Homo sapiens: one gene and its partners. The protein of the gene in region 6 purifies or fractionates together with the protein of the main gene of each other region. This does not show direct contact. Each region holds a gene or a part of one and is shown on either strand. Other genes may lie near its edges. The genes, in order: CTSA, RNF19B, LACC1, TRO, RLIM, DNAJB2 and RFWD3.

Region 1 (3,562 bases), on a different chromosome or scaffold from region 6:
GGAGGCAGAGGTTGCAGTGAGCTGAGATCATGCTACTGCACTCCAGCCTGGGCAACAAAAGTGAAACTCCATCTCAAACAACAATAACAAACTGTTAACTTCCATGTCCAGTCTCCTGTGGCCACCCCCCCCCACAACCCCAAGTAAAAGGGTAACACTGGGCCCAGCAGGGCTGCTCAGGTCCATTTTGATTGGTCAGTGCTCACACTCTACCCTGTTGTATGTTGTGACTCCCACACCTGCTGGCCCCTAGACACTAAATGCCAGATGCATCCCAGTCCTCGTAACAACCAAAATGCGTCCCTTGTACATTTCTTTTTCTTTTTTTTTTTGAGATGGAGTCTTGCTGTCACTCAGGCTGGAGTGCAGTGCTGCGATCTTGGCTCACTGCAACCTCCGCCTCCCGGGTTCAAGTGATTCTCCTGCCTCAGCCTTCTGAGTAGCTGGGACTACAGGCACGCACCACCACGCCTGGCTAATTTTTGTATTTTTTTTTTTAGTAGAGACGGGGTTTCACCATGTTGGTCAGGCTGGTCTCGAACTCCTGACCTCGTGATCCACTCACCTCGGTCTCCCAAAGTGCTAGGATTACAGGCGTGAGCCACCACGCCCAGCATCCCTGTACCTTTCTAAATGGTGGTGAGTTGAGGCTGTCTGAATCCCAGCCCATCCAGCCCAACATCCAAGTCAGTCCTAGAGAGGTGGCCCCCCCCCAAAAAGGGGAGTGGAACCCAGCTGTCTGCCTTCTGGGTTGGAGCTTGGAGATAGGAGAGAAGGTCTGATCTGTTGACTACTTTTCGCCCCGACCTGGTCTTCCTGGGGCCTGCTCGTATGTTCCCGGCAGCTTTCTGGTAAACTTACAGTACCGCCGTCTCTACCGAAGCATGAACTCCCAGTATCTGAAGCTGCTTAGCTCACAGGTGAGTGGGGAGAGCACAGCTGGATCACCAGCAGCCTTAGGACCCCAGAGTAGCACAGCAAGCTGGGGGCCCTTGAGACTTCCTGTCAGGACAAGGGAAGCTGAAACTCCGAAAGGCGAAGCCCAGGGTCCTGTGATTGGTGGGGTCAGAATTTGAACCTGGGTTTGTCCCCACCCATGCTGTCCTGCTATAGGAGGCCTAGGGGTCTGCATCAGCCACGGAGTCTTAAGGGTGAGAAGAGCTTCATTCATGCCAAAAATGGGCCAGCAGAGGTCCAGGGTGGGAGGAGACCTTGCACAAGGTGATATAGGAAGCACTGGCAGGGCCAAGTTAGGACTAGGTTCTGTCCAGCACAGTGGTTAATAGCATGGGCTCTGGAGTCACATGGCCTGGGTGCAAGTCCCTGTACTAGCCACATAATCTTGGGCAAATTTCTTAAATATGAGCCTCAGGTTCTCCATCTGTAAAATGGGGATAATAATGATATCTACCTTCACAGATAAAACATTTAGTAGAATACTGGACATGCAGTAAGTCGTTAGAAAACATGAAAATTCCCTGGTTCGTGTTATCTAGCTTGGCCCCTTGAATTTCCTGAGGGGTAGGCCTTGAACTAGGGAAGGGCTGGGGACTGGGCTTGTTCCACACCCCTCATTTTTACCCCATCCTGCTTTAGAAATACCAGATCCTATTATATAATGGAGATGTAGACATGGCCTGCAATTTCATGGGGGATGAGTGGTTTGTGGATTCCCTCAACCAGAAGGTAAGGTAGAGATTCCTGGCCCTGGGATAGGGGCTGCTGTGGAGGATTGGGAGCGGGTATGCCTGGGAGTGGCCAGCTGGCTGCCTGGCTCTGGCCCACAGAGGGCAAGTGTGGAGGAATTCCCAGCCCTAAGGTCTTGCTGGTAGCTGTGAGCAAGGATGCAGCTGCTGTAGGCTGATGTCTTTCCTGGTGGGGCAGATGGAGGTGCAGCGCCGGCCCTGGTTAGTGAAGTACGGGGACAGCGGGGAGCAGATTGCCGGCTTCGTGAAGGAGTTCTCCCACATCGCCTTTCTCACGATCAAGGTAGGGACTGGGCCTGCTGAGAGATAACTGGGCCGGAGGCAAAGGAGCAGGACCCACCCGTCCTTTCCCTCTGGCTGCCTTTTAGGCTGGGTCATGGGTCACCATCTGGCCCCTGTATGGGCAAGTTTTTTTGGAGAGGGGTGGGGAGGGTTCTGGGAAGAATAAAGGGTTTGGGATGAAGGAATTGCCCCCGAGTGAGCAGTTATATGGGGAGGAGGGAATGGTGGGGTCAGGAGCTCACGAACATTGCTCCTCAGGGCGCCGGCCACATGGTTCCCACCGACAAGCCCCTCGCTGCCTTCACCATGTTCTCCCGCTTCCTGAACAAGCAGCCATACTGATGACCACAGCAACCAGCTCCACGGCCTGATGCAGCCCCTCCCAGCCTCTCCCGCTAGGAGAGTCCTCTTCTAAGCAAAGTGCCCCTGCAGGCCGGGTTCTGCCGCCAGGACTGCCCCCTTCCCAGAGCCCTGTACATCCCAGACTGGGCCCAGGGTCTCCCATAGACAGCCTGGGGGCAAGTTAGCACTTTATTCCCGCAGCAGTTCCTGAATGGGGTGGCCTGGCCCCTTCTCTGCTTAAAGAATGCCCTTTATGATGCACTGATTCCATCCCAGGAACCCAACAGAGCTCAGGACAGCCCACAGGGAGGTGGTGGACGGACTGTAATTGATAGATTGATTATGGAATTAAATTGGGTACAGCTTCAAATCCCGTCTTCTCTGTGGCACTGGGGGTTAGAGGGGGCACTACAGGCTATGAATGTGGGAAAAGAGGGGCTGAGAGGGGTTGGGGTCCTGAATGACAGCTGCCAGCTTGGGGATTGAGGGCTCAGACAGCTGCTGTGGACGGTGTGGGGGCAGTGGACGCCCTGACATCAGCAGGCCGGTTCTTCTCAATCACCTCTCGCAGCCCTTTGGCAAAGTGGAGATCAGCCCCGATGGTGAGGAATCCCTGTGTTGGGGAGAGGGGAGCCTCATTTATTCATTCAGTTATTGAGGCCAGAGTTTAGAGATCAAGAGACAGAGTGTTTGTCTTTCAGGAACTCAATCTAATGGATAATTCCATGTCAAGGTGTTAAAATGAGGCTGTAGGAGTGTAGACTATGGGTGTCAAGGAGGGCTTCTTGGAGGAGGTGACCTCTGAGCTAAGACCTGAACAATTAGTAGGTATTGGGATGGGAGAAGAGTGCTCCAAGAAGTCACAGTGTGTGCAACGGCTTTTAGGAGTCTAAGATTAAAATGGGAGGGGCGACTGGTAATGGGGGAGCTGGGGTCAGGTAATGGAGGGCACTGGGGAGCTATAGAGAGAGGGGAAGGCCCTCCCTCCTTCCCCATCCTGCCCCCACTCACCGCATGGTTCGTCACCACCTCATGCACAAAGTTGATGCCCTCAGGTAGTGGGATCTGCACCCCACGCCAGGTCCGCTCTGTGGGTGGGAGCACCCCGCTCAGTCTGGGCCCGCCCAGTTCACCCCTCCTTTCTTCCTCCATCCTCACACCCCAGCCTTACCATTGAGCATGGGCATCACCCCAATCTGCAGCATGGTCTTCAGAGGGGCCTGTAATGGGAT
Region 2 (4,569 bases), on a different chromosome or scaffold from region 6:
AACATTTCCAGGGATAGGCAGCTCAGTATCTACTAAAGTAGCCTTTTTCCTCTTTGGGCTTTCATGTTGCTTTTCCCTATATTCTCTATACTGAACCAAAATTAGTTTCCCTTTAGCTTCTGCCAAGTCATCTTAATCTACCTTTTGGTATGAGGCATAGAAGTCTAATCCTTTTCACAGTTGAAGGTCCTTTGGATAGCTGAAGGCAACCATCTCCTCTACCTTCCTATCCTGCTTTGTTCTACCTTTACCCCTCCCTAGGCCTTTCTTCTCCGTTGCATTCAACTGCTTCTCAGGCAACATGTTATGCTCCTCTGAAAATATACACTCTGGTCTGCCTAACTAGTGAAATGACCAAGCAAGTCACAATCTTTTTAGTTACAAAGCTTTACATATTTTCAACACAAGTACATAGAATTGATTTTCCTTATCTAGCAAATGGAAATAGAAAGGTAATAAGGATTGCAGTATCACTAAACCAGCTGGGGGCAATGGTTCATGCCTATAATCCTAGCACGTTGGGAGCCAAGTTGGGAGGATGGCTTCAGGCCAGGAGTTTAAGACCAGCCTGGGTAACCGAGCAAGACCCCATCTCTACAAAAAATTTAAAATGTTAGCTGGGTGTGGTGTGTGCACTTGTAGTCCTAGCTACTCAGGAGGCTGAGGTGGTAGGATTGCCTGAGTCCAGGAAGTTGAGGCTGCAGTGAGCCATGATTGTGCCACTGCATTCCAGCCTGGATGACACAGTGAGAAAAAAAACAAAAAAAAATCCCCAAAGCCCACTATCAATAAACCATGATGGGCTGGGTGTGGTGGTTCATGCTTGTAATCCCAGCACTTTGGGAGGCTGAGGCGGGTGGATCACAAGGTCAGGAGCTTGAGACCAGCCTGGCCAACATGAAACCCTGTCTCTACTGAAAATACAAAAATTAGCCAGGCATGGTGGTGCACGCCTGTAGTCCCAGCCTCTTGGGAGGCTGAGGCAGGACAATCACTAGAACCCAGGAGGTGGAGGCTGCAGCGAGCCAAGATTGCACCATTGCACTCCAGCCTGGGCGACAGAGCAAGACTCCGTCTCAAAAAAATAAAATAAAATAAATAAGCCATGATACAGCATAAATGCTACTGAAAGCCAATGACAAGCCTAACGGAGAGCATTTTACGAATTCTATAAAAATGCCTACTCTCCCTTCCTGAAGCAGGCAGCCTCAGGCAGTCAAGGGGGAATCTCAAGTCAGGATTATTCTTTATATAGAGGCAGCTATGGTGCAATGGAAAGAACAATGAACTTTGCATAACTGACGTAACCTTTTTTTCTAAGCTTGTTTCCTATTTGTAAAAGTAAAAAAAAAAAGGCCTGTCGCAGTGACTCATGCCTGTAATCCCAACGGTTTGGGAGGCCAAGGCGGGCGGATCACGAGGTCAGGAGATTGAGACCATCCTAGCTAACATGGTGAAACTCCATCTCTACTAAAAATACAAAAAATTAGCTGGGCGTGGTGGCGGGTGCCTGTAATCCCAGCTACTCAGTAGGCTGAGGCAGGAGAATCGCTTGAACCCAGGAGGCGGAGCTTGCAGTGAGCCGAGATCACGCCATGGCACTCCAGCCTGAGCCACAGAGTGAGACTCTGTCTTTAAAAATAAAAAAGTAAAAACAAAACAAAACAAAACCATTGACAATTAAATCAAAATAAGATGATACGTGGCACAAGCCTGGCACAGAGAAATGGCTCAATGTGTTACTTCTTATAATTCTAACCATTTCTGTCAGAAATTATCTATTTGTTTACCTGCTATATTTTCCCTTGCCACTGGAGAGAATGCCGCCACTCAGCGTGCCCCCTGAGAGGGCTGCAAAGCTGGCCGTTTCGCTGTAAGGACCTTGCATAACACTAAGTCCATCTGTAGGGCTTCCACTAGTGCTCAATACACTAGTCAGGCCTTCAATGCTGCTTTCCCCAATGCTGGGATTCTTGAGGGCTCTCCAGGCATCTGCCACTGGGGATAGAACCAAACATCCAATTCAAGACAGCAGAGCATCAAAACAGTCAGTAGGCATTTTCCTGCAATGACTTTTCAGAGAACTAATGTATTTACTTAATGAACAGGTACTGTGTGCAGTCGCCACATATCAGGTGTTTTAACATATGTTCATATTTAATCCTCCAAATAACTAGGCATTAATAGCCTCAATTTTAGATGAGAAAACTAAAATTTAAAACTAAATGACTTGTCCAAGGCCATGGTAGTTACATGAAACTATAACTCTGATTCCAAGGCCACTATTCTTTCCACTACACTGTTGCTTCCATGTAACCAAACGTGAAGATTTAAAAAATATGTTTGGGTCATGTGCTGATTTTAATAGGAAGCTTCTAGTAGAAAGCTAGAAAAACCGGCCGGGCGCGGTGGCTCACGCCTGTACTTCCAGCACTTTGGGAGGCCGAGGCGGGCGGATCACGAGGTCAGGAGATGGAGACCATCCTGGCTAACACGGTGAAACCCCATCTCTACTAAAAATACAAAAAATTTAGCCGGGCGTGGTGGCGGGTGCCTGTAGTCCCAGCTACTCGGGAGGCTGAGGCAGGAGAATGACGCGAACCCAGGAGCCGGAGCCTGCAGTGAGCCAGGACCATGCCACTGCACTCCAGCCTGGGCAACAGAGCAAGACTCCGTCTCAAAAAAAAAAAAAGAAAAGAAAAAAGGAAGCTAGAAAAACCTTTGGGGTTTTCTACGTTACTTGTGCCCTACGTTACTTACTACGAGTAGAAACCACATTAAAGTAAAAGTCAGAAGACTTGCCCTAGTCTCAGCTCTGTGAAGCTCTTAATAGATAGTAAGATGAAAGCTTAAAGAAATTCCCATTTAGGCCAGATGTGGTGGCTCACACCTGTAATCCCAGCACTTTGGGAGGCCAAGGTGGGCGGATCATGGGGTGAGGAGATCGAGATCTTCCTGGCTAACACGGTGAAACACCAAACCCCGTCTATACTAAAAAAAAAAAATTAGCCAGGCGTGGTGGCACGTTGCTGTAGTCCCAGCTACTCAGGAGGCTGAGGCAGGAGAATCACTTGAACCTGGGAGGCGGAGGTTGCAGTGAACCGAGATCGCGACATCGTACTCCAGCCTGGGTGACAGAGACTCCGTCTCAAAAAAAAAAAAAGAAATTCCCATTTAAATGGGGATAACAGCTCCATCCTCCCTCGTCAGAGAGCTGTTTGTTGTAAAAAGCAAGTGAGATAATTGTGTAAAATACTCTGAAAATTATCAAGTACTGTGCAGATATAAAGATGTTATTATAATCACTACTACTACCAGCATACTTGGAGTTACTTGGATTCCTACTAGTTTGTACCTGCCACACAGAGGCAAGTACCAGGGGAATTAACCTAATAACTTTGGAACAAAGAAATGAAAAGCTAAAAATACTTTACCCCCTACAAAGCTCATTATCCAAAGTAATCCAATGACAATCTCCCTGTAAAATGCGCTGAATTTTACTGATTTTTATCTTGTATATCATAAATTCAAATGGAAATAAACATCCTGCTTTTTACCTGTGATTGGACCATCATCTTCATCAAATTCAATTTTCACTCCTTTTCCGTTGGCTGTGCTAACTCCACAGCCGCCTCCACGACAAAGAGAAATGGGCACAACCCCATAAACATATGCCAGCATAATGGGGACACCAATACCTGGGGGAAGAGAAGGAAACATGTCAGCTGGCTATTAGGTTGCAAGTGCCCTGAATTCTTCTTCCCAGTCTGGGCATGGACAAACCACTTTATAAAGAAAGGAAGACAGAAAGTGGCTATCCCAAAAAGGTGGCCTGGTGTAACAGAATGATGACCAGGCTAGAAATCAGAAAGGTCTGGATTAGATTCTTGGCTCCATTTACTAGCTGTATAACCTTGGACCTATCTTCCCAGGGTTGTCAATAATCAAATGAGAATGCTATGTACTGTGTTTTGCACAGTAAATATATGTTGCTTTCATTTTCCCCTCTTCTAATCACTGCTGAAATGCTAACCCAATCAAGAGCCAATCAAGAATCAAATATTAAATAAGTGACTACTGCTTGGAGTTTAGGATCTCCTCAGGATGTTAATTCCAAAATCTTACTGCTGTGTGAGGTAGAATGGCTTAGCTGTTAAGAGAACAGGATCTGAAGGCAGATTAACTTGATTCATGTCCCAGCTAAGTGACCTTGGGAAAATTACTGCACCTTTCTTTTTTTTTTTTGAGACGGAGTCTCACTCTGTTGCCCAGGCTGGAGTGCAGTGGCACGATCTCGGCTCACTGCAAGCTCCGCCTCCCAGGTTCACGCCATTCTCCTGCCTCAGCCTCCCAAGTAGCTGGGACTACAGGCACCCGCTACCACACCCGGCTGATTTTCTGTATTTTTAGTAGAGATGGGGTTTCACCGTGTTAGCCAGGATGGTCTCGATCTCCTGACCTCGTGATCCGCCCGCCTCGGCCTCCCAAAACACTGGAATTACAGGCGTGAGCCACTGCGCCCAGCCAATTACTGCACCTTTCTATTAAAATTGTGCTTCCTTTTGTAAG
Region 3 (4,569 bases), on a different chromosome or scaffold from region 6:
GGAAGGTCTAATTGAGAGACTGGTATTTTGAATAGCATCTTTTAAATCTTCACTGCTTATCTTCAACAGATATTTTCATACATGGATTTACTACAAGAACAGGTGGGATATCTTATATACCAACTCTTAGCTCATTCAATCTCTTCAGTAGTTCCAAACGGAGAGATCCCAAGGTAGTGGTTCAAGAAAATCTGCGTAGGTTGGCGAATGCTGCAGGATTTAATGTGGAGAAATTTTACCGAATAAAGGTAAAATTTTGCTTTATATTTTGAAAGATCTAAAGTATATTTTTTACTTTGCTAGTAACTACATGGACTTTAAGCTATTTAACTTTTGTATCTGCTTTTTTATCTAAAGTTTTAGAATAATGCTGTGGTTGTCTTTCTTAGATTTATACACCATAGCCTAAAGATAAGTTCTATTTTATACACACACACACACACGTGCAGATATATATATATATATATATATGCACACACACATATAGTAAGTCATCCTTTAATGTTGATAGGTTCTTAGAAATTGTGACTTTAAGTGAAACGACATAATAAAACCAATTTTACCATAGGCTAATTGATATAAATAAGAATAAAGTTTCTAAGGCATATTTCTTGTCACAAAAACATCACCAAACTTCTAAATAAAGACCAACACATTCCTAGTATTAAACATTGAAATAAATGTGAGCTAGACATATATTTACAAAACAGTAAGAAAGACAAATAAGATAACTACCAAATTATTTCGGTTCAGGGCTTTAGGTAGCTGGAGTCTATTCTGGCAGATCAGGATGCAAGGCCACAACCCACCCTCGACAGGACACCATTCCATTGCAGGGTGCCCTTACACACACACACACGTACTCATGCTGGGACCATGTAGACACCCCAATTCATCTAACATGCACTTCTTTGGGATGTGGGAGGAAGCTGGAGTACCCAGAGAAAACCCATGTGGACGTGAGGAGAAGGTGCAAACCTCACACAGTCAGTGACCGGGTGGGTAATCAATTTTTTTCATTAACATTATAATGAAATGATGTGGAATAAAATGACATTATTCAAGAGCCTACTGTATATTTCATCTGGAGTCCTCAATTCTAAAAGTACAGTTAATTCTCAGAGAGTATACTACCACTGCTCTTTTTGATTTAGAAGAAAGGGAACTGAATGGTGGTAGAGAAAGGCCATTATTTTATAAATCTACTCCAGGAGGAACTAGGGTCATAGTTGATGAGATAATGTCTTGTTCCTTACAGAATTCTAGCTTTACTTGAGTCTTGGAAAAGTAAAAGTATCATTGATTTGTTAATTAACTTTCCTTTACAAGAAAAATTTTCATTTTGTAGAAAGTGCTATAAGAAATGATATACCTATCTTTATGGAAAGATGTTCATTATTCACTATATTGAATTTTATAATGTTAAACTCTGCTTTTCTTTGCATAAACTATCAGAGATTATAATCTAAAATCTTAAATAGTTAAATTATAAGTAAATTTTGTGTTTTCCCATATATAAAAGTGATATATTTAATGAATGCTAGTAATCTTAAACTGGTTATATAATTTTATACTACAATGAGTACCTTCGAGAAAGCTTATGGTATAAGAAATACTATTTCCAAAACATTTTTGTTGCACATTTTTGGTATTAGACTCATCATTCCAATGACATCTGGATTATGGGAAGAAAGGAGCCTGACTCTTATGATGGAATAACCACAAATCAGAGAGGAGTCACAATAGCAGCTCTTGGTGCAGACTGTATACCGATAGTTTTTGCAGATCCAGTCAAAAAAGCATGTGGGGTTGCTCACGCTGGTAAGTATACTTAATTAAACATTTAGAATTTTACTCATTTTGTTGTGCAGGAAAAATTGTAATTTCTTTCTGATGGACATGGCAAACAGTTAATTACATTACACTGTGGTAAGTGTAATGATGGGAGAGGCGGCATAGTTTTATTATAGGGACAGCTAAGAGGAGTATCTGCATCAAATTATATGAATTATAGTAGAATTCCCAAAGGAGGTGGCACCTAGGTTGATTCCTGAGGAATTTGTTGGTTTTGGCTGGGTAACAGTGTTCCTTAGCAAGGGTGCTATTAACATTTTGGGCAGGATAATCCCACATTGCAGATTAAGTGTCTTTAGCCCCTGAAATCCTTAATGACAGTAGCACCTCTAGTTACTGTAATAACCAAGACCAACCAACCAACCAATCAAACAACAACGAAACCCTCCAAGCTTTTCAAAACACTCCCTAGGGGAGTGGTACTGCCTCTGGTTGAGAATCCTTGAAATCCAGGCCATAGGAAATAGGAATGTTAGGCATGTTGCAGAGAAGTGTTCACCCAGATGGAGCTGCATGTGTAAAGCTAGGGAGGTAGGAAAAAGCAAGATGTTTTGAAAACTGTTTTTAGTTTACATCACTTAATGTATTTAACTGTAACTATTCTCTGAGAGCAAAGAAGTATTTTTAGAAGGTATATTGTGTTAAGGATATGGAATTTTGTTTTCTGAAGGTATTTTAAAATAGTATTTTAGATTACCCCATAGCTGTGATTTTGTGTGAAATGAGGGATGATCTTTAAAATTTCCTTCTACTTGTAAATCTATGGCTACTTTGCTTTTTAGCTCATAGGTAAAAAAGAAAGTAGCATATTTTTATTTTGACCTAGCTGAAATAATGGGATTGAATGAGTAGAAGTCAGGTTTACTACATGACATTGTCAAAAAGTTATTTAAAATTTGAGTCTTGGCTCCTGGATATAAAAAGAGGATATTATTTTTTTACTTCTTAGGTTCGAAAACATTTAGTTTAAACATATCCAAGATCAAGCAGTCAAAATGAAGTTATAAATGTGAATTTCAAGTCATTAATAAGTTAATTTTGAAAGAATAAAATACCTAGGAATACAGTTACCTTAACCAAGGAGATTAAAGGTCTCTACAATGAGAAGTACAAAACACTGCTGAAAGAAAGCAGAGATAATATAAACAAATGGAAAAACATTCCATGCTCATGGATAGGAAGAATCAATATTGTTAAAATGGCCACACTGCCCAAAGCAATTTATAGATTCAATGCTACTCCTATCAAACTACCAATGTCATTTTTCACAGATTTAGAAAAAACTATTTTAAAATTCACATGGAACCAAAAAAGAGCCCAAATAGCCAAAGCTATCCTAAGCAAAAAGAATAAAGCTGGAGGAGTCATATTGCCTCCCTTCAAGCTGTACTCCAAAGTTACAGTTACCAAAACAGCATGGTACTGGTACCAAAACTGACACATAGGCCAATAGAACAGGATAGAGAACCTAGAAATAAAGCCACACACCTACAACCATCTGATCTTTGACAAAGTCGACAATAACAAGCAATGAGGAAAGGAATCCCTGTTCCATAAATGGTGCTGGCATAACTGGCTAGCCATATGTAGGAAATTGATACTAGATCCCTTCCTTTCACCATATACAAAAACTAACTCAACATGGGTTAAAGACTTAAACATATAGCCTAAAACTATTAAAACCCTAGGAGGAAACCTAGGAAATGCCATTCTGGACATAGGCATAGGCCTTGGCAAAGATTTCATGGTGAAGACTTCAAGAGCAAACAAAAACAAAAATAGTCAAGTGGGACCCAATTAAACTAAGGAGCTTCTGCACAGCAAAAGAAACTATCAACAGAGTAAACAGAAAACCTACAGAATTGGAGAAAATATTTGCAAACTATGCAGCTGAAAAGGTCTAACACCGAGACTCTATAAGGAACTTAAATCAACAAACAAATAACAATCAATCCCATTAAAAAATGGGCAAAGGACATGAACAAACGCTTCTCAAAAGAAGACTTACACGTGGTCAACAAGCATATGAAAAAACGCTTGATATTACTAATCATTAGAGAAATGCAAATCACAACTACAATGAGATACCATTTCATACCAGTCAGAATGGCTGTTATAAAAAAAGTCAAAAAACAACAGATGTTGGTGAGATTGTGGAGAAAAGGAAATGCTTACACACTGCTAGTGGGAATGTAAATTAGTTCAGCCACTGTGGAAAGCAGTTTGTATATTTCTCAAAGAACTTAAAATTAGAACTACCATTCAACCCAGCAATCCCATTACTGGGTATATACCCAAAGGAATATAAATTATTCTGCCATAAAGACACATGCACACGTATGTTCATCACAGCACTTTTCACAATAATGAAGACATGGAATCAACTTAGATGCCCATCAGTGGTGGACTGGATAAAGAAAATATGGTACATATACATAATGGAATACTATAAAGCCATAAAAAAGAATGAAATCATATCCTTACAGCAACATAGATGCAGCTGGAAGCCATCCTAAATGAATTAATGCAGGAACAGAAAATCAGATACCATATGTATCCTTTAAGTGGGAGCTACACATTGAGTACACATGGACACAAAAAAAGGGACAATGGACATGGGGGCTTACTTAAGGGTGGTGGGTGGGAGGAGGGTGACGACTGAAGAACTGTCTGTTCGGTACTATGTCCACTACTTGGGTGATGAAATCGTTTGTA
Region 4 (4,569 bases), on a different chromosome or scaffold from region 6:
TTTCTACCCTTCTAGTTTGTTCATTTCTTCTATAAAAGTTTTACTTTGAGCTAGTCCCTGTGTTCAGATAGGCTGTGGAAGATGCTGAGAAGAAGGTGATATAGTTTCTGCTCCCTAGCAGTTCACAGATTGGTGAGGAAATAAGACATCCATACACTCAGCTACAACCTGTATGTAATACTACTTGTATTTAAATAGTAGTTACCACGTGCCAGGCTTTGTGTTGGGTACAGTTACACAGGGTATGTCTGAATGTCTTGAAAGTAACTCTTACCAACAAGGGATCATAGGTCCCAGTTTTACACTTAAGAAAACTGAGTCTCAGAGAAATGAAGTGACTTGTCCAAGAGGTACCAGCCAGCATAATTGGTGGTAGCCAGAGGAAGAGAAAGACCCTTAGGCTCTTATCTTGAGTTGTTCCTGGCCTGGCAGAGGAACGAAACTCCTTCCTGGAAGACAGTGAAAGATAAGCTCAGGACTCAGGGTGGCCAATGGCAAGGTCAGGATCAGGCTCCACTACAGCAAGGCTGAGGGAGGGGGTTAGAGGGACTTTCTGTCTGGAGCAGGCAAGGTGAGGAGACAGAGCCATCTCTTTCACCTGGTGACTCTGGACCTTCCTTCTTTCTGATGATGAAGTCCAAGCATCTGAATGGGGATGAGAGAAGTGGCAGTAATTACAGGCGGATCCCATGGGGCCGGAGGCCTGCACCACCGCGAGATGTGGCCATTTTACAAGAAAGGGTAAGAATCCAATGCTGTCCAGTCTCTTCTCTTCTTCACTTGCCCTCTTCTCTGCCTCCTTCCAAGTTTTCTGCAAGCATGTTAAGATCTCTCCATCTATTCCTCTCCTCCCAGGCTAATAAGTTGGTGAAATACCTGTTGGTTAAGGACCAGACAAAGATCCCCATCAAACGCTCAGGTAGTGTCCTACCAACCCTCCTCCTTGAGCTCTCCTCTCCACTCCCCTCTCCTCCCATAGTCTGGGAGTAACACTTTATGGCCTCTTTGTTCTGTCATATCTCCACACCTGCCCTCCTTGCACTCTGCCATGGCTGGCATCTCCCATTAACTCACTTCAGGTCTCTGATTGCACTGACCCAACAGGACTGGCAAAAGGGCTGCAGCTCTGTGGCCCCTGCTAAGCTCAGCTACTCTCACCTCTCCTTTTCTACAGACATGCTGAGGGATGTCATCCAAGAATATGATGAATATTTCCCAGAAATCATTGAACGAGCAAGCTACACTCTGGAGAAGGTGAAGGGGCAGTGCTGGCGGATGGGCGCAATGGGGAAGCTTTGAATCGAGCAAAGACATACATGTCCCTTTTGGAGAGAATCACAGAAACATGCTAATCCAGCCCCATTACTGTGTGAATGGGCAGACAGTGGCCTAGGGAGAGGTGTAGATTTGCCATGGGTCACACAGCATGTCAGTGATGAAAACATGGCTAGGACAGAAGCCACTCAAATTAGTCTCAGCTTCTATTCATAGTTGGACATATTCTGCATGTATTTCAGATCTCACCTCTCCCTTGTATCCCCATTTTCTGTCTCCCTAGATTCCTGCTCATCACAAAGATGATGTTGATGACAATAGTACATTTGCTGTGTGTTTACTGGGTGCCAGGCACTTGGCTATGTGCTTTATGTGCATTATCTCACTGACTTCTTACACATGCAGACCCCCTAAGTACACTGGGAGTTTTAGGATGCCCGGAAAGTTCACTGATACCTAAGCTGAATTTTGTGATCTCACAGGCTATTCTTTTACTTGGCAGATGTTTCGAGTCAATCTGAAAGAAATTGATAAGCAAAGTAGCTTGTATATTCTCATCAGCACTCAGGAATCCTCTGCAGGCATACTGGGAACGTAAGCTGGGAAAGGGCTGGAGTGGGAAGGAAGCTTCTGCTTTTATCTGTGCTGCTACCCCTTCTTTGTCCTACTTCCCCCATCCTCTTAGAGAGTCAGGAAAAACAGGGTCTCAAAAGCCCTGTCTCAGCACCTGCACATAGTTGGAGCCCTGCTCACAGTAGTGGCACCTGATTATGATTGACTGAAGGGTATAGGAGCCTAGGGTGGGACATTCCTGCTGTCAGGTTTGCTGTCTCTGTAGAAGCTTCCCAGGAAAGCAGGCCTGTCATTGCTTGCCTCTTCCGATGGAGTGCCTGGCCTGGCTTTGACAGAGTGGTTCTCAAGGAGGGCTTCCTGGTGTGGCTGGATCAGTATGCATGAAGCGCAAGAGTGTCAGTGGGGCTGAAGGTTCTGGGAGAGAAAGAAGGGACTCACATTGACTGAGTGCTTGTGTTGTACCAGGTTGACAGCCATTCTTCCATCTTCTTGGCAACCTGAGGAAGGGAGAATATGATTTTCCCATTTTACTGAATAATAGACCAAGGCTTGCAAGGTCTAAGTGCCTTGCCCAGGGTGGCATAGAGCTGGAAGCAGAGACTGGGCAGAATTCTGTATCTGAGGAATCTGGGAGAGGTTAGCCTGGTGAGCTGGCTGGTGTATCTTTTGCGGATGGCTGCTGAAACATAAACCTTCTTTCTGTCCTGTTGAAACATAAACCTTCTTTCTGTCCTGTTATTCCCTTAGGACCAAGGACACACCCAAGCTGGGTCTCCTCATGGTGATTCTGAGTGTCATTTTTATGAATGGCAACAAGGCCAGTGAGGGTGAGTGGCTGGGCATGCAGCTGAATGGGCGGCCATGGTCTGGATTCCATGTGTTCAATTTCTGTCCCTGTCTCCTCTTGCCTCCCCTCACAGCTGTCATCTGGGAGGTGCTGCGCAAGTTGGGGCTGCGCCCTGGGTATGACTGGGCTCTCTCAGCGCTTGCTGTCCGTGTTGTCCTTTGGCAAGAGAGGATGGTCCTAGGATTGCATCAGTCTGGTGGTCTGGTGGAGCGGGTGGGGTGCTGGACTGGGTAGAGGGCCCAGGGTTCTGACCTGGGTGGATGACGGGCAAATGGTCCTGAACTCTCTGCTGTCTCTCTCCTTAATGTCCTCTGTCTGTTCTAAGCTGAGATGTTAGATAGACCTTCAGGGATCCCTGACAAAGAGGCATCTGGTCTTAACTGCTTGCTTCTAGTGGCCATGTGCTCATTACTTTCTTCACTTCATTGAGACTGCCCCATGTGCTAGAGAGGTCTCTTCCATGTTGGGAAATGCCTCTGCCCTCATCTGGGCAGTTCTGATCTGTGTTCATGGGTTATTTTTCCCATTGTCAGGGTGAGGCATTCACTCTTTGGGGAAGTGAGGAAGCTCATCACAGACGAGTTTGTGAAGCAGAAGTAAGTGGTGTTTGGGGCTTTGTCTGGCCCTGAAGTGTTCTGGGTATACTGATCTGGTTCAGAAAGTGCTTAGTCAGTGCCTTTCTTATACTAGCTTTAGAGGGATGGGCATCCTGTGTCCTAGAACTGATACTGTCTAAAATTCCCATGGGCAGACCTTTCCAGGACTGGGCCAGACTCAACACAAGGCCCTTGCAGTGGGGTGCGCTCAGAGCAGAGGGCCTTAAGAATGGCTCCTCTGTTTACAACACACCCAACAGGAATCTGGGCTTACTCCTCACAGGTGGCATGATACTTTGGCCTTCCTGTGACATCATGCCCTATACATGTCTCCCCTGGAGAAGCCCAAGGGACTGCTTTGCACAGGGCCAGTGGGAAATGGCTCAGTATTGGAGGCCAAGACCATAAACTGTGTTTGGTAGTGAGTCTGGGGCTGGAGGGTCTTAGAAATCCCTCTCCAGGGGCTGTTTGTATTTGTTTGGAGGAGGTTGCCACCTGGTGTCTAGTGCTTAGACAGCAGGGTTGCTTGGTTAGAAACAAGTTTCATTTCCTTTTTCCAAGGTACCTGGAGTACAAGAGGGTCCCTAACAGCAGACCACCTGAATATGAGTTCTTCTGGGGCTTGCGCTCCTACCACGAGACTAGCAAGATGAAAGTCCTCAAGTTTGCATGCAGGGTAAGAGGAGAGCTGCCCGAGCTTGGCATATTAAGGCAATGGGATACCCTTGGCTGGGGCAGGCAATGCACAGGGATGGGCAGGTACAGAGCAGCCTGCAGCTCATATATAAACATGTGGAGCCTCCTTTATGTCCCAGGGTGCTGCTAGATATATAGTTTACATCATCTCATTCATTCTTCATACTTTGTATTAATCAGCATGGGCTGCCATAACAAAATACCATAGACTGGGTGGATTAAAAAACAAATTTATTTTCTCATAGTTCTTGAGGGCGAGAATCCTAGGTCAGGGTCCACGAGGGTCAGTTCCTGTTGAAGGCTCTCTTCCTGGCTTGCAGATGGCTGCCTTCTTGCTGTGTCCTCACATGGCTTTGTGTGTGAGAGAGAAGAGAGCAAGCTTTCTGGTGTCTCTTCTTATAAGGACACTAATCCTGTTGATCAGGACCCCACCCTTATGGCCTCATTTAACCTTAATTATCTCCATAAAGGCCCTATCTCCAAGTACAATCACACTGGGTGTTAGGGATTCAACATACGAATTTGGGGGCGGGCACAACCCTTCAGTTCATAACATATTTACGCTCTATCATTTCCTGTAAT
Region 5 (4,569 bases), on a different chromosome or scaffold from region 6:
GTTACTTTGTGTGTGGTGGTTGATTTTTTTCCTTTAAGATTCAAAAATTCATAATTGATACATGATACTTTTAATTGATATTGACTCCTTTCATTATTATTATCATCATCATTAGGGTAACCACATAATTTATTGCCTAACCAAGACACTTTTAAGAACAAAAGGAACATTAATAATTCCTGGACAGCAGGTGCAAACCTTGATTGTCCCCGACAAACTGGGATGGATACTTAGCCTAAATTCATAACCAACTTCTGCTGAAGGCCTGTGGTGCTAGGCCATGTGCTTTATATGCATTATTTTATAATTCTCACAACAGAGCCTCATGAGAATGTTAACTTTTATAGAGGAAACCAAAAACCCAAAGAGGTTAAGTATAATTTGTCCTCAGTTAAATAGCTTTAAGTGGTGGAGCCCTCATTTTATCCCAGGCCTGTCTGACGTTATACTTCTGGGTTTGATTGCTGTCTAATTAGATAGGAAATGCAATGAAAATGAAAGGTTGTAGTAAAAAGTCTGTAGGTTATGTTGCATCAGAAACTTTTGTTAATACTTAAAGGTTATCCAGCAATCCCCCCTTTTCGTCTGTTACGTTCCTGTTTCAGCTATTATGCATGTTTACACATATTTATTGTTCTATTTCACAGGCCCTGTAATTGGATGGGCTCATTGATAGATGTTAAATGGATAGCTCCTTGTATATCATTTGATAAACTTAATTTAAAATCAGAAATGATTTTAAGAAATAGCTTAATAATTAAATGATCTGGAAATACTAGGCTGGTTGGATATCTTTGAGGTTAGTGAACATGTAGTGAGCCTTAATATAGTAGTAGGTCAAATGAGGCATCTGCATTTATGGAATTATATTATATGTACATTAATTTTTCCATGGCCATGGTGGATTAGAAATAGAGCAAATCACCAGCCAGCCTCCTGTTCTCTTCATTTACCATAGAGTGGATGACAAATTAGAGAATAAAAAGTCTTCTGTCAAACCCAAACCAATGAGGGCCTAGAATTTTGTGCCACTGCCTAGAACTGGACAGGTTTTTCTTTAACACAAAGATTTCTAAAACCTATGGCCCATTGATTTCAGAAAGTATCTAGTTTACATAATAAATTGAAGTTCTGATGTCCAATATAAGAAAGTAATAACACTTCTGTATCTATTTTTCTTTCATTTTTTTTTCTCAGCCTCAAACATGAAAGTTTCCCAGATAATCCAGCAATTCATTTCTCTTTTTATCAATTGAGGTATTTTTATTTATTTATTTTTTATTTTTTTATTTTTTTGAGACGGAGTCTCACTCTGTCGCCCAGGCTGGAATGCAGTGGTGCACTCTCGGCTCACTGCAACCTCCACCTCCTGGTTTCAAGCAATTCTCTTACCTCAGCCTCCCAAGTAGCTGGGAGTACAGGCGCTCTCCACCACGCCTGGCTAATTTTTGTATTTTTAGTAAAGATGGGGTTTCACCATATTGGCCAGGCTGGTCTCGAACTCCTGACCTTGTGATCTGCCCACCTTGGCCTCCCAAAGTGCTGGGATTACAGACGTGAGCCACCGCGACTGGCCAATTGAGGTATTTTTTAAATATACCTCAATTGGGGGAATATATTTATGAACTTGTGGTTTTTCTCCTGACATATATAGTTGGTATTTTTGCTCTAGATTTTCTTATATTTTAATGTTCCAACACAAGGGTTTTTTTTTTTTGGTTTTTTTTGTTTGTTTGTTTGTTTGTTTGTTTGTTTTTTGGTTAGGAGGGCAGGACGAGTTTTGCTCTGTCGCCCAGGCTGGAGTGCGGTGGCACGATCTTGGCTCACTGCAACCTCCGCCTCCTGGGTTCAAGCGGTTCTCCTGCCTCAGCCTCCCGAGTAGCTGGGATTACAGGCACGTGCCACCACGCCTGGCTAACTTTTGTATTTTTACTAGAGATGGAGTTTCACCATGTTGGCCAAGCTGGTCTTGAACCCCTGACCTCAGGTGATCCGCCCGCCTTGGCCTCCCAAAGTACAGGGATTACAGGCCTGAGCCACCGCGCCTGGCCACCAATCCAAGAGTTTAATTTCATTAGTCACAGTAGCACCTACATATCTGTGAGACAAATAATCTGTAGGCAGAGAGCACTTGGTGCATTACATAGATTGGTGGATTTCTTGCAATAATTTTGCAACTACAGGTTGGTTTGCTTTTATAACATTTGAGAGTCTAATGGCGTTTCCATGATGATGAACATGTTACTTCCTGGGAGAAAGGAAGTATTTGTGTTTGATGTTTAAAATTTTTTTCTGGAATGACAAAAGGTCCCTTCTGATCTCCCCTTGACTATAGGAGGAAAAGTGTTAACTACAACTTTTGTTTTTTATTGACCAATGATCCCTTTAGTGCTGATTATAACTAAGGAGACCATATGAATTATCTAAACTGGGACACTTTTGAGAGTGAAAGGGAGAGCCATATTACTGATTACTTCAGTACAAGTGTAAACCCTTACTCTTCTGGACAAACCAAAGATATATTGTCACCCTCTTCATGTTATTTTTATGTAGGTATACTAGTTCAGGAAGGACAATTGTCAGCATGGTTGGTCTTAAATACAAAATTACTTCCTCAAATAACTGATTGGTATAGATAATACTTTCTTTTTTAGTTAAGTGATTTTAATTTTTTTTTTTTTTTTTTTTTTTTTTTTTTGAAACGGAGTCTCGCTCTGTCGCCCAGGCTGGAGTGCAGTGGCGCGATCTCGGCTCACTGCAAGCTCTGCCTCCCGGGTTCACGCCATTCTCCTGCTTCAGCCTCCCGAGTAGCTGGGACTACAGGCGCCCACCACTACGCCTGGCTAATTTTTTTCTATTTTTAGTAGAGACGGGGTTTCACTGTGTTAGCCAGGATGGTCTTGATCTCTTGACCTTGTGATCTGCCCGTCTCGGCCTCCCAAAGTGCTGGGATTACAGGCGTGAGCCACCGCACCCGGCTAAGTGATTTTAATTTTAAAAATTGGCTTCAATCTTTAAAAACCTGATTTTTGATGGAAAAATCTTAGGTCCTTAAAATAGTGCCTTAGTTACTGATGAACACCAACATTGTCAGTTATCAGTGATTTTTACCTTAGTAACTTAAACACATGCACTCCTTGGGTTTTTGAGTCATTTTCTTTTTGACTTCTTAGGAATAATGAGAGAAGCAAGTCAAAACGAGTTTATGGATAAGACCAAATTATAATTTAGTGGCATAGCTTGATAATAAAAGAACATAAAACGGGTAATTGAAGATTAAATTCACTGTCTAGATTAAAGTATTTGACTGAGATGAAATGTCATAATGGTTTCCTTTTTTAACTAACTTGATCCTGTAGATCAACCGCATTTGGCATGGTCTTCAGTCCTTTGATTTACTGAAGTTCTTAACACTCTTTCAGTTTTAACTGTTTTAGAGCGTTTTAGTAAAAGTTGTTTGAGCTGCAAGTCGGTGCGTACATGAGGAACATTCCTGAGTCCTTTTAGTTTTTCTCTGCTGTCCTTTTCAACTGGTAAAGATAGAAGAATGTAAGTGGAGGCTAAGCTAACTGCCATTCAGATATTTTATAATCTCTTATTGTTATGGTAGCATGAGCAGTGGGGGATACCTTGGTAGCATTTTCTGATAGGCCACTCTTGGAAATTATCAACAAATTTTTTAGTTGGTGAGAGGTATCATGCAATAAGGAAAGTCAGTGAGACATTAACCCTGCCTGTTCTTTTTTTTTTTTTTTTTTAGGAATGCTTTATATTTCTTTTCAAAAAGATAACTGCGTGAGTGGAGATAGAAGTACATTGAGTGAAATGGTAGTGAGAAAAGCAGAGCTTATAAGCTTATGTCCTAGTTATTTGTGCTGTTTCCTAAACTTAATATTTCTTAATATCGTAATGTGGTGTAGGTTATATCTTATTTACAGTTACAGATTCATAGAACTGGAAAGTACCTTGCAGATGGTTTAATCCAATACTCTAATATTGATGGAGACTTCTCTGGCACAAGAGGTTAAATGAATTGGCCAAATCCACATAACCAAGTTACAACCAAGACTGGATTTCAGTATCTCTTTTTTCCTTTCACAGAGCTGAGTTTCACCCTGCTACCCATGTGTAGAATAAAAAAAGATACCTGGTTGTTAGCAAATATTTTTCTGTTACAAATACCATAACATTTTAATTAAACATTCTATATATGAAGAATCCCCAACACTTTTGGTGCCTACATACGTAATGATATGATGGTACTTTTTGTTTTCTGGCCTTAAATTCAGCAGTTCTTTGTGATTTAACTTTTAAAAAACTGAATAAAGTATTTTTCATTTTGGTGATGGTATTTAACATTTTCTTCATTGACACAGATCACATGTCACTAGTTCTTAAAGGACTCCTTTATGAAGTTCTTTTTTGTTTTTTTTGTGTGTGTGTGTTTTTGGTGTGTGGTTTTTTGTTTGTTTGTTTTGAGACGGAGTCTCGCTCTGTCACCCAGGCTGGAGTGCAATGGCACGATCTCTGCTCACTGCAACCTCCACCTCCCAGGTTCAAGCAATTCTC
Region 6 (3,527 bases):
TTGTTATTATTACCTATAAAACAGATAGTGGTATTTTTTAATGATAGATATGTGCCAAATATTTTACATTTCGTAAGTCTCTAGTGAATCCTGACAGGTGGGCAATTTTCTCCCCATTTGCAGATGAGAAAACTGAGGCACAGTTAATAGCCCAGAGTCACATAACACATGGCAGAGCTGGACTCCTAGCTGTGTCTGCCTGTCATCGCGTCATGATGATTTGCCTGTACTGAAAGAGCCATCTGTCCTCCATCCCTCTTCCCCCTCCTTCCTTCCTTTATTCTTTATTGTGGACAGAATTAACCAGTGAGTGTTTTCGAATTCAACATTAAAAAGGAATTTATAAATAAGCCCAACTAAAAAGCGGAAAAGAAAAACCCTACCCAGTTGCTTAGTGGTTTATACTTCCAGACTTGGGCTCACACACTTTTGAGGGGAAATGTCATTACCAGATGACTGCTAATCTGTTTACTTGTTGCAGATGACCTGGGCCCCTTCTCAGAGCTTCAGAACCGGGGTTCCCGACACTCAGGCCCCTTCTTTACCTTCTCTTCCTCCTTCCCTGGGCACTCCGGTAAGTTCTGCCCCTTCCCACGTTTGCAAGCTCCGATTCCTGGAACCCCTGGCTTGAGCTTGTTGCTTTTCCAAGCCTGTCTCCTGTGTTGGGAGCCCTGCCTCCAGCAGCCCTGCGAGGCGGCCTGGAGCCTCGGTGACCACAACAGGCAGCGCAGTCTTCTTCTAACCACCTCTCCTCCTCCTCCCTTGTCCCGATGCCAGATTTCTCCTCCTCATCTTTCTCCTTCAGTCCTGGGGCTGGTGCTTTTCGCTCTGTTTCTACATCTACCACCTTTGTCCAAGGACGCCGCATCACCACACGCAGGTGAGAGCTCCTTCTGGGGCCATAGAGGGGTGAGAGGTCTGCTGGGGAGCTGTGTTCAAATAGAAAGTTGGCTCCTTGAGGGCAGGGCCCAGTCTGCGCTCTCTACTGCGGTGGCCAGAACTGGGACCAGCGCCTGCAGGATTCTGTCACTGCTCGTTGCCTGAACTGTGCTGTCTCCCACAGAATCATGGAGAACGGGCAGGAGCGGGTGGAAGTGGAGGAGGATGGGCAGCTGAAGTCAGTCACAATCAATGGTGAGGAGCAGCTCCCCTACCCAGCCCCTGGCAGGAAGCCCCAGCCCCAACCTCAGCAGCCTCCTCCCCAAACTGCTGCTCTCTGAACTCACTTAGGGCTTGGGAGGGAGTGGCAACAGGCCAGACTGGTAGGATCAGAGATGGCAATGTCGGGAAGGGGGTGAAGGAGTCTCACGAAGCCATCGCCGTCACTGTGAGTGGGGTGCCTTACATTTGCAAAGCACTTTACTATTTTTAAAGCACTTCCAGATATACGATATCCTCTGTATTCTTCAAGCATCTGGGGGAGTACACAGGGCAGATGGTATCCACTTAGTTTTAATTTGGGGAGCCTGAGCTGCAGCATAGTTAAATGACCCTAACTTCCAAGTAGCCCAGGCCCAAGACTCTTTCCTTCCAAGTAAGGAGTAGAGCCAGGAGTCAAACTCAGGACGCACGATTCCCGGAGCAGAACTGCCCCTGCAACACCATGCTGTGCAGGGCCGTCACCACAGCTAACCTTTCACGCCTGCTGACTCCCAGCACTGCGTACCAAGCCCTTTACATGGGCTGACATATTTAATCATTGGAACAATTTGAGTATGAAGGCACTATCATCATTCCCATTTTCTTTTTTTTCTTTTTTTGAAACAGGGTCGTGCTCAGCCCAGCACGATTATGGCTCACTACAGCCTCGACCTCCTCGGCTCAAGCAGTCCTCCCACTTCAGCCCCCTGTGTAGCTGGGACTACAGGCGTGTGCTACCATGCCCAGCTAATTTTTAAACTATTTTGTAGAGATGGGGTCTCACTATGTTGCCTAGGCTAGTCTCGAACTTCTAGGCTCAAGTGATCCTTCTACCTCGGCCTCCCAAAGTGTTGGGATTACAGGCATGAGCCACTGTGCCCGGCCATCATTCCCACTTTCTAGATGAGGAAAGGGAGGGGTAGGGATGTTGAGTGACTTGCCTAAGGGTAGGAGCTTCTACCTGGTAGAGCTGAATACTTCCTTGTGCTCAAAATCACAAGCCTAGGTGCCAAAATGCATGTGTGCCAATTCCAAATAAGAGACTCTAAGTGGTCAGGGTTGTTACTGTGTGAGGCAGCCTGGCAGTAATACCCCTGGCTCAGGTTGGGGCCTCATGGTGGCTGTGACTCTTGCAGGTGTCCCAGATGACCTGGCACTGGGCTTGGAGCTGAGCCGTCGCGAGCAGCAGCCGTCAGTCACTTCCAGGTCTGGGGGCACTCAGGTCCAGCAGACCCCTGCCTCATGCCCCTTGGACAGCGACCTCTCTGAGGATGAGGACCTGCAGCTGGCCATGGCCTACAGCCTGTCAGAGATGGAGGCAGCTGGGAAGAAACCCGCAGGTGGGCGGGAGGCACAGCACCGACGGCAGGGGCGGCCCAAGGCCCAGCACCAAGATCCAGGCTTGGGGGGGACCCAGGAGGGTGCGAGGGGTGAAGCAACCAAACGCAGTCCATCCCCAGAGGAGAAGGCCTCTCGCTGCCTCATCCTCTGAACACCGGGCCCAACCTGATCTGATCCAGATCTTGACTGGGGGGTCTGACTCACTGTGGGAAGAGAAGAGGGGAGTATCCTGAGTTGTAGGAACTGCTTTCCAACTCCAAGCTCCCTCCACAAGTTTCCCTCCCAGGCCCCCCACACCCCAGTGTGGACTTGGGATTTGCTGTGCTCAGCCCAGGGCTGATAGGTCCCTGGTGAAGCCCAGGGTGGGGGGTGTCAGGGCAGTGGAGGGGCCCGAGGAGCCAGGTTGCATTTATTGGATGGGGAGCTCCAAGGGGCATTAGTGGTTTGGGCTGGGCCTTTTGTGCCCTGGTACTCTGCCACCTGTGTTGCTGATGGTGTCAAGGAAGGAGGACTTGGCCTAGGGTTGTCTGAGCCGGAGCCGGCAGCTCCACTGGAGAGCAGTGCAGGCAGAGTGGAGCCTCCTGCTCTCCTGGACCAGCTGCAGACCCCCAACCCTGGTTTCTGTGCCATGTTGCGCTCTGACCGTCTCTGTTGCTTCTCTTCTGGTGTTGCTTCTCCTCCCTCCCATTCTCTCTGCAACTCCCTGCGGGCCGCATCGCTTGCTTTCACTGCCGTCTGGCTAGGACTCCCTTCTTCCTTCCTTCCCCGAGAAGGCCTCAATGTGGCGAGGAAGATGCTGGGGCCGGTAGGGCTGTGAGATCTTCTGGGGAGGCTAGCCGGGTGGGGCGGGAGCCTCTCAGCTGTCCAGATTCAGAACTGGAGCCCACTCCTCCTCCCTCTCGTTGCCTCAGCCTGCCCTCACCCTCAGGACTAGGCAGAGGTGAGGCTGGCTCACCCTGAAGAGGTGGGATAGGACCGGGGGACCCCAGAGGGAGGCCTAGGAGGGGACTGCACCCATACTGCTTCCCTACCACAAATCAGGGCTC
Region 7 (4,569 bases), on a different chromosome or scaffold from region 6:
CGGCTGGCTAATTTTTTTGTATTTTTTGTAGAGACGGGGTTTTGCCGTGTTGCCCAGGCTGGTCTCCAACTCCTGGTCTCCAGCTACCTGCCTCAGTCTCCCAAAGTGCTGGGATTATAGGCGTGGGCCACAGCTCCTGGCCGAATTTGATTTTTATTTAATTTAAATAACCATATGGGAGTAGACAGTGCGGCCCCCTAGATTCTGCTCTTTTTAGTCCATTTCTCCCCTTTGTCTTCCTGAAGGCTGAGTTGCTTAATGTCTCTTGAGTACATCTAGAAGTAGCTTGGGCCTTATGTTCTGACACACAATTCTTGGGAGACTGTCGTTGTACCCTAGAAACATTAAAAGCTTTTAGTTAGGCAGCTGCAGTAGCTCACTCCTGTAATCCCAGCACTTTGGGAGGCTGAGGCAGAAGGGTTGCTTGAGCCGAGGAGTTGAAGACCAGCCTAGGCAACGTGGGAAACCCCATCTATACAAAAAATGTTTAAAACTTGAAGTATCTCACATTGTTCAGTTTGCAGACTTTCTTTCCCACTTATTTTCAGTACTGTGCCACTCTCCATCCTGAGTGTAAGCCTGTGTGGTTCAAACCTCCAGTTTTCTCGTGCATAGGGGGAGAAGGGCTTTGTTCTGTGTTTTGTTTTAGCTGGCTGGTGTTTGAGTAGGAGTCAAGCTAACTGCTTTACTGGCTTTTAACCAGCCCTTCTCTTTTAGCGCCATCTTTCAATATTGCCTTTTGTGGTACCTGGTTTTTACAGTCCCTTTAGTGGGAATCAGCTTGCTTCTCAATAACACACCTCACCCCAACCACTGTGCCCTTTGCAGGCTTTGAGTTTTATCTTTTGGCTCTGCTAAGCAGTCATCAATCATCAGTTTCTCCTTTATGGCCTTAAAAAACTGGTTTGCATATCATACCCTGTTTGCATTTGTGTCGTCCTGGTTAATTTATCCTTTCTTAAAAAAATGTCTCAGGTTGTGGGGGTCATGTTCGTGGGTTTTAGGAATGACTGGAGTGGAGAGAGAAAGATACATATATGTACTTCGTCCACTATGTTTATTAGAATTCCTTCCATTTATTCAGCCTGCACCAGTCTGGCCTCTGACCCCACCACTTCAGGGAAACTGCTTTTTTAGGTCACCTGTCATCCTCATGTTGCCAAATCTAGCGGCCGTTCTTCCCCCCAGTAGCACTTGACACTCAATTGTTCCTTCCTTGAAACATTGTTTTTCCAAGACACCACATTCCCATGTTTCCTCCTACTTTATAATCTTCCTTAACTGGCTTCTTTTACTCTGTTGTACTTTTAACAGTAGTGTCTCTGACTTTAGTCTTCAGCCCTCTTCTGTCATTCTGTTCCTCAGGTGGTTTAATCTGCTTTGATGATTTTAAGAAACATGAGTATTGGCCGGGCGCGGTGGCTCATGCCTATAATCCGAGCACTTTGGGAGGCTGAGGCTGGCAGATCACCAGGTCAGGGGATCGAGACCATCCTGGCTAACACAGTGAAACCCCGGCTGTACTAAAAATACAAAAAATTAGCCAGGCGTGGTGGCAGGCACCTGTAATCCCAGCTACTCGGGAGGCTGAGGCAGGAGAATGGCGTGAACCCGGGAGGCGGAGCTTGCAGTGAGCCGAGATCGCGCCACTGCACTCCAGCCTGGGCAACAGAGCGAGACTCCATCTCAAAAAAAAAAAAAAAGAAGCATGACCATTCTGAAGATTCTTAAAGCTGTCTGTTTGTTTTCATCTCCACTGCTACCACTCTTGCCTAGGTCTCTCTGACCTCTGGTCTGGACTCCCACAATAGCCTCTACACTGGTCACCTAGCTTATGCTCTTGCACCCCTACAGTGCATTCCTAACATAGAAGAAACTCCTTACCAAGGCCCATAGGCCCTTTAATAATGGTGTCCTGTTCATCAGTGAAACCCATGCTCATCAGGGACCTATGCACTGATTTCCTTCTGAGACTCTTCTTGGCTCTTTGCATAGCCAGCTGCTTTTAATCCTTCATGCCTCAGCCCAATTTTCACTCTTTAAAAGAGTACTTCCCTCACAATTGTGTCTTAGTTGGTCCTCTTTGTCTCCTCAACCCCAAACATCATAATCTATAATTTTTTTCATGTATTTGTTTATTGACATCTTACTTGCTAGAATCTAAACTCTGATACATGGGGTCTTATCTGTTTTTGCCTCTAGGGTGTCTTGTCTGCATAACAGGTGCTTAATAACTATTAGTTGAACCCCCATTTCCTCATAAGTCAGATGAAAATAAAAGCACGTGCCTTACTTCACAAAGTAATTAAGGGGATAAGTTATACTGATGTACTTTAAAAACTAGGTGGTAGGGAGGCACAGTGGCTCAGTCCTGTTGTCCTGATGCATGAGGAGGTAAGGCCAGGCATTCAAGACCAGTTTGGGCAACATAGGAAGCCTTCATCTATATAACAAAAAAAAATTTTTTTTTTTAGTTTAAAAACTAGGTGGTAGTTTTCAAACTGATACAATGGAATTAAAGATAGGAAACATGAAAAGAACATAGGTGCTTAATAAATATTTGTTGAATACGCTAACATGATGGAATTAGAGATGGAAAACAAAAATAATGAAAGGGATAGGATAAAGTTTGCTCAGCCTTTTTGGAAACATTAGGTAAGTTTCCATTTTGAGTTAGTAACAGTTAATTTTGCAAGTGTAAAAAATGTCCTTTCTCTATTTATCCCTTGTAACTGTTGATGCTGTGAAAGATTAATATTGCCTGCTAAAATTAGATACTGCATTATATGCATTTGATTTTGGTGAATGTCCATATTCAGCTTGAGAGAACTGCAAAGTGTCTGAGAGATTACTTTTAGACCCAGTAGTTTAATCTCCTTGGTTTATAGATCTTTCTATTTTGGAAGATACTACTATGATCACAGGACTTCATGTTTTCTAAGGGCAAACCGGAAAACTGGTTATAAATGCTTGTTATAGAGAGGAAAGTCCATTACCAAACACTTCTGACTTAAGTAGTTAAAATCTTCTCTTGAAGCTTCTCAGTCTTGCTAAGAATGATATTAAACATAAAATCAGAAAGATTAAATATGATTCTGTCACCTACATAGCATGTTTTATCTATTTTATTAATACTTTTTACAAATACTGTTTCTCTAGTGATGGCTCATGAAGCAATGGAATATGATGTTCAGGTGCAGTTAAATCATGCCGAACAACAGCCAGCTCCTGCTGGCATGGCCAGCAGCCAAGGGGGACCAGCCCTCCTCCAGCCTGTTCCTGCTGATGTGGTCAGCAGCCAGGGGGTACCATCCATCCTCCAGCCAGCTCCTGCTGAGGTGATCAGCAGCCAAGCGACACCACCCCTGCTCCAGCCTGCTCCGCAACTGTCTGTTGACCTGACAGAAGTGGAGGTCTTGGGAGAAGACACTGTGGAGAACATCAATCCAAGAACTTCAGAACAACATAGGCAGGGATCTGATGGTAATCACACCATCCCAGCATCTTCGTTGCATTCAATGACCAACTTCATCAGCGGACTGCAGAGACTTCATGGCATGCTGGAATTCCTGAGACCTTCATCTTCAAACCACAGTGTAGGGCCAATGAGAACAAGAAGGAGGGTATCTGCTTCACGGAGGGCAAGAGCCGGAGGGTCTCAGAGGACAGACAGTGCCAGGTAAATAAATATATGGATAAGTCTGTGATCATTGCTGTACTAGAAATTATGAAACTGAGGCTCTGCCATTCAAGGACTGACAGTGTGACTTTTGGCAAGTCAGGTAACTTCTGACCCCCAGTTCCTCATAGGTGGAAATAAAAGTGCTTGCCTTACTTCACAAAGTAATGAAGGGATAAGTTAAACTGTTGTGCCTTGAAAACTAGGTGGTAGTTTGTTGGCAATCTCTGTAGAGATTGGCTGTTGTTCAGATTGTGTCTTGTACACCAAAAATTCTTTCTTCACTTGCAAGTCTCTACTCACCCAAATTCATTATTCACTGGCATTCCACCTGGGGGCACAATTAATTAATTTTCTTTCATAGTCTTGGTTTGAACTTGCCTCTTGAAGGGCTTAGCTGTCAAGTCTTGACAGGGTTATTATGAAGAATAACAATTGCCTATACCCTGTCCGTTTTTTGGTTTTTTGTTTTTGTTTTTGAGACAGCGTCTCACTCTGTCGTCCAGGCTGGATTCCCGTGGCACAATCTTTGCTCACTGCAACCTCCATCTCCCAGATTCAAGCGATTCTCCTGCCTCAGCTTCCCCAGTACCTGGCATTACAGGCGCGTGCCACCACACCTAACTAATTAAACCTGTCTGTTTTTGGTTTTGTTTTGTTTTGAGATGGAGTCTCACTCTGTCGCCCAGGCTGGAGCGCAGTGGTGCGATCTCCGCTCAGAGAGGGCTTTGTTCAGGGTCTCATAACTATAGAATAGAGGAGTTAGCACTGATATTGGAGCCTGGATCTGCCCTGTTTTCTACATAGGCAGATGGAGGAAGCTTCGACGAAATCCCTTTGTTTTCTCTTTCTTCTTGTTTTTATTATTGTTATTTTTGAGACAGGGTCTC

What was found.
Region 1: the proteins of DNAJB2 (region 6) and CTSA purify together in Homo sapiens (affinity purification with mass spectrometry; 4 studies listed by BioGRID and IntAct, with this or other methods). This does not show direct contact.
Region 2: the proteins of DNAJB2 (region 6) and RNF19B purify together in Homo sapiens (affinity purification with mass spectrometry; 3 studies listed by BioGRID and IntAct, with this or other methods). This does not show direct contact.
Region 3: the proteins of DNAJB2 (region 6) and LACC1 purify together in Homo sapiens (affinity purification with mass spectrometry; 3 studies listed by BioGRID and IntAct, with this or other methods). This does not show direct contact.
Region 4: the proteins of DNAJB2 (region 6) and TRO purify together in Homo sapiens (affinity purification with mass spectrometry; 3 studies listed by BioGRID and IntAct, with this or other methods). This does not show direct contact.
Region 5: the proteins of DNAJB2 (region 6) and RLIM purify together in Homo sapiens (co-immunoprecipitation; 3 studies listed by BioGRID and IntAct, with this or other methods). This does not show direct contact.
Region 7: the proteins of DNAJB2 (region 6) and RFWD3 purify together in Homo sapiens (affinity purification with mass spectrometry; 3 studies listed by BioGRID and IntAct, with this or other methods). This does not show direct contact.

Annotation. Positions count from the first base shown.
Region 1 is NC_000020.11:45,896,121-45,899,682, forward strand, and holds the end of CTSA (lysosomal protective protein isoform b preproprotein), read left to right. Parts: intron 1-844; coding exon 845-920; intron 921-1,596; coding exon 1,597-1,686; intron 1,687-1,884; coding exon 1,885-1,989; intron 1,990-2,246; coding exon 2,247-2,330; 3' UTR 2,331-2,700; downstream 2,701-3,562. Other genes in the region: PLTP (phospholipid transfer protein isoform a precursor), read right to left, coding at 2,821-2,943, 3,342-3,418, 3,502-3,562. UniProt on the Homo sapiens protein: Protective protein appears to be essential for both the activity of beta-galactosidase and neuraminidase, it associates with these enzymes and exerts a protective function necessary for their stability and activity.
Region 2 is NC_000001.11:32,940,462-32,945,030, forward strand, and holds part of RNF19B (E3 ubiquitin-protein ligase RNF19B), read right to left. Parts: intron 3,699-4,569; coding exon 3,558-3,698; intron 1,999-3,557; coding exon 1,791-1,998; intron 1-1,790.
Region 3 is NC_000013.11:43,882,116-43,886,684, forward strand, and holds part of LACC1 (purine nucleoside phosphorylase LACC1), read left to right. Parts: intron 1-69; coding exon 70-248; intron 249-1,655; coding exon 1,656-1,821; intron 1,822-2,803; coding exon of another isoform or gene 2,804-2,853; exon of another isoform or gene 2,854-4,569. UniProt on the Homo sapiens protein: Purine nucleoside enzyme that catalyzes the phosphorolysis of adenosine, guanosine and inosine nucleosides, yielding D-ribose 1-phosphate and the respective free bases, adenine, guanine and hypoxanthine.
Region 4 is NC_000023.11:54,923,815-54,928,383, forward strand, and holds part of TRO (trophinin), read left to right. Parts: intron 1-636; coding exon 637-741; intron 742-855; coding exon 856-919; intron 920-1,174; coding exon 1,175-1,254; intron 1,255-1,777; coding exon 1,778-1,869; intron 1,870-2,595; coding exon 2,596-2,675; intron 2,676-2,768; coding exon 2,769-2,811; intron 2,812-3,228; coding exon 3,229-3,291; intron 3,292-3,490; exon of another isoform or gene 3,491-3,621; intron 3,622-3,852; coding exon 3,853-3,967; intron 3,968-4,569. UniProt on the Homo sapiens protein: Could be involved with bystin and tastin in a cell adhesion molecule complex that mediates an initial attachment of the blastocyst to uterine epithelial cells at the time of the embryo implantation. Directly responsible for homophilic cell adhesion.
Region 5 is NC_000023.11:74,607,617-74,612,185, reverse strand, and holds part of RLIM (E3 ubiquitin-protein ligase RLIM), read left to right. Parts: intron 1-4,569. UniProt on the Homo sapiens protein: E3 ubiquitin-protein ligase.
Region 6 is NC_000002.12:219,282,356-219,285,882, forward strand, and holds part of DNAJB2 (dnaJ homolog subfamily B member 2), read left to right. Parts: intron 1-481; coding exon 482-574; intron 575-777; coding exon 778-880; intron 881-1,063; coding exon 1,064-1,134; intron 1,135-2,276; coding exon 2,277-2,632; 3' UTR 2,633-3,527. UniProt on the Homo sapiens protein: Functions as a co-chaperone, regulating the substrate binding and activating the ATPase activity of chaperones of the HSP70/heat shock protein 70 family. In parallel, also contributes to the ubiquitin-dependent proteasomal degradation of misfolded proteins.
Region 7 is NC_000016.10:74,660,042-74,664,610, reverse strand, and holds part of RFWD3 (E3 ubiquitin-protein ligase RFWD3), read left to right. Parts: intron 1-110; exon of another isoform or gene 111-2,655; intron 2,656-3,157; exon of another isoform or gene 3,158-3,159; 5' UTR 3,160-3,161; coding exon 3,162-3,679; intron 3,680-4,569. UniProt on the Homo sapiens protein: E3 ubiquitin-protein ligase required for the repair of DNA interstrand cross-links (ICL) in response to DNA damage. Plays a key role in RPA-mediated DNA damage signaling and repair.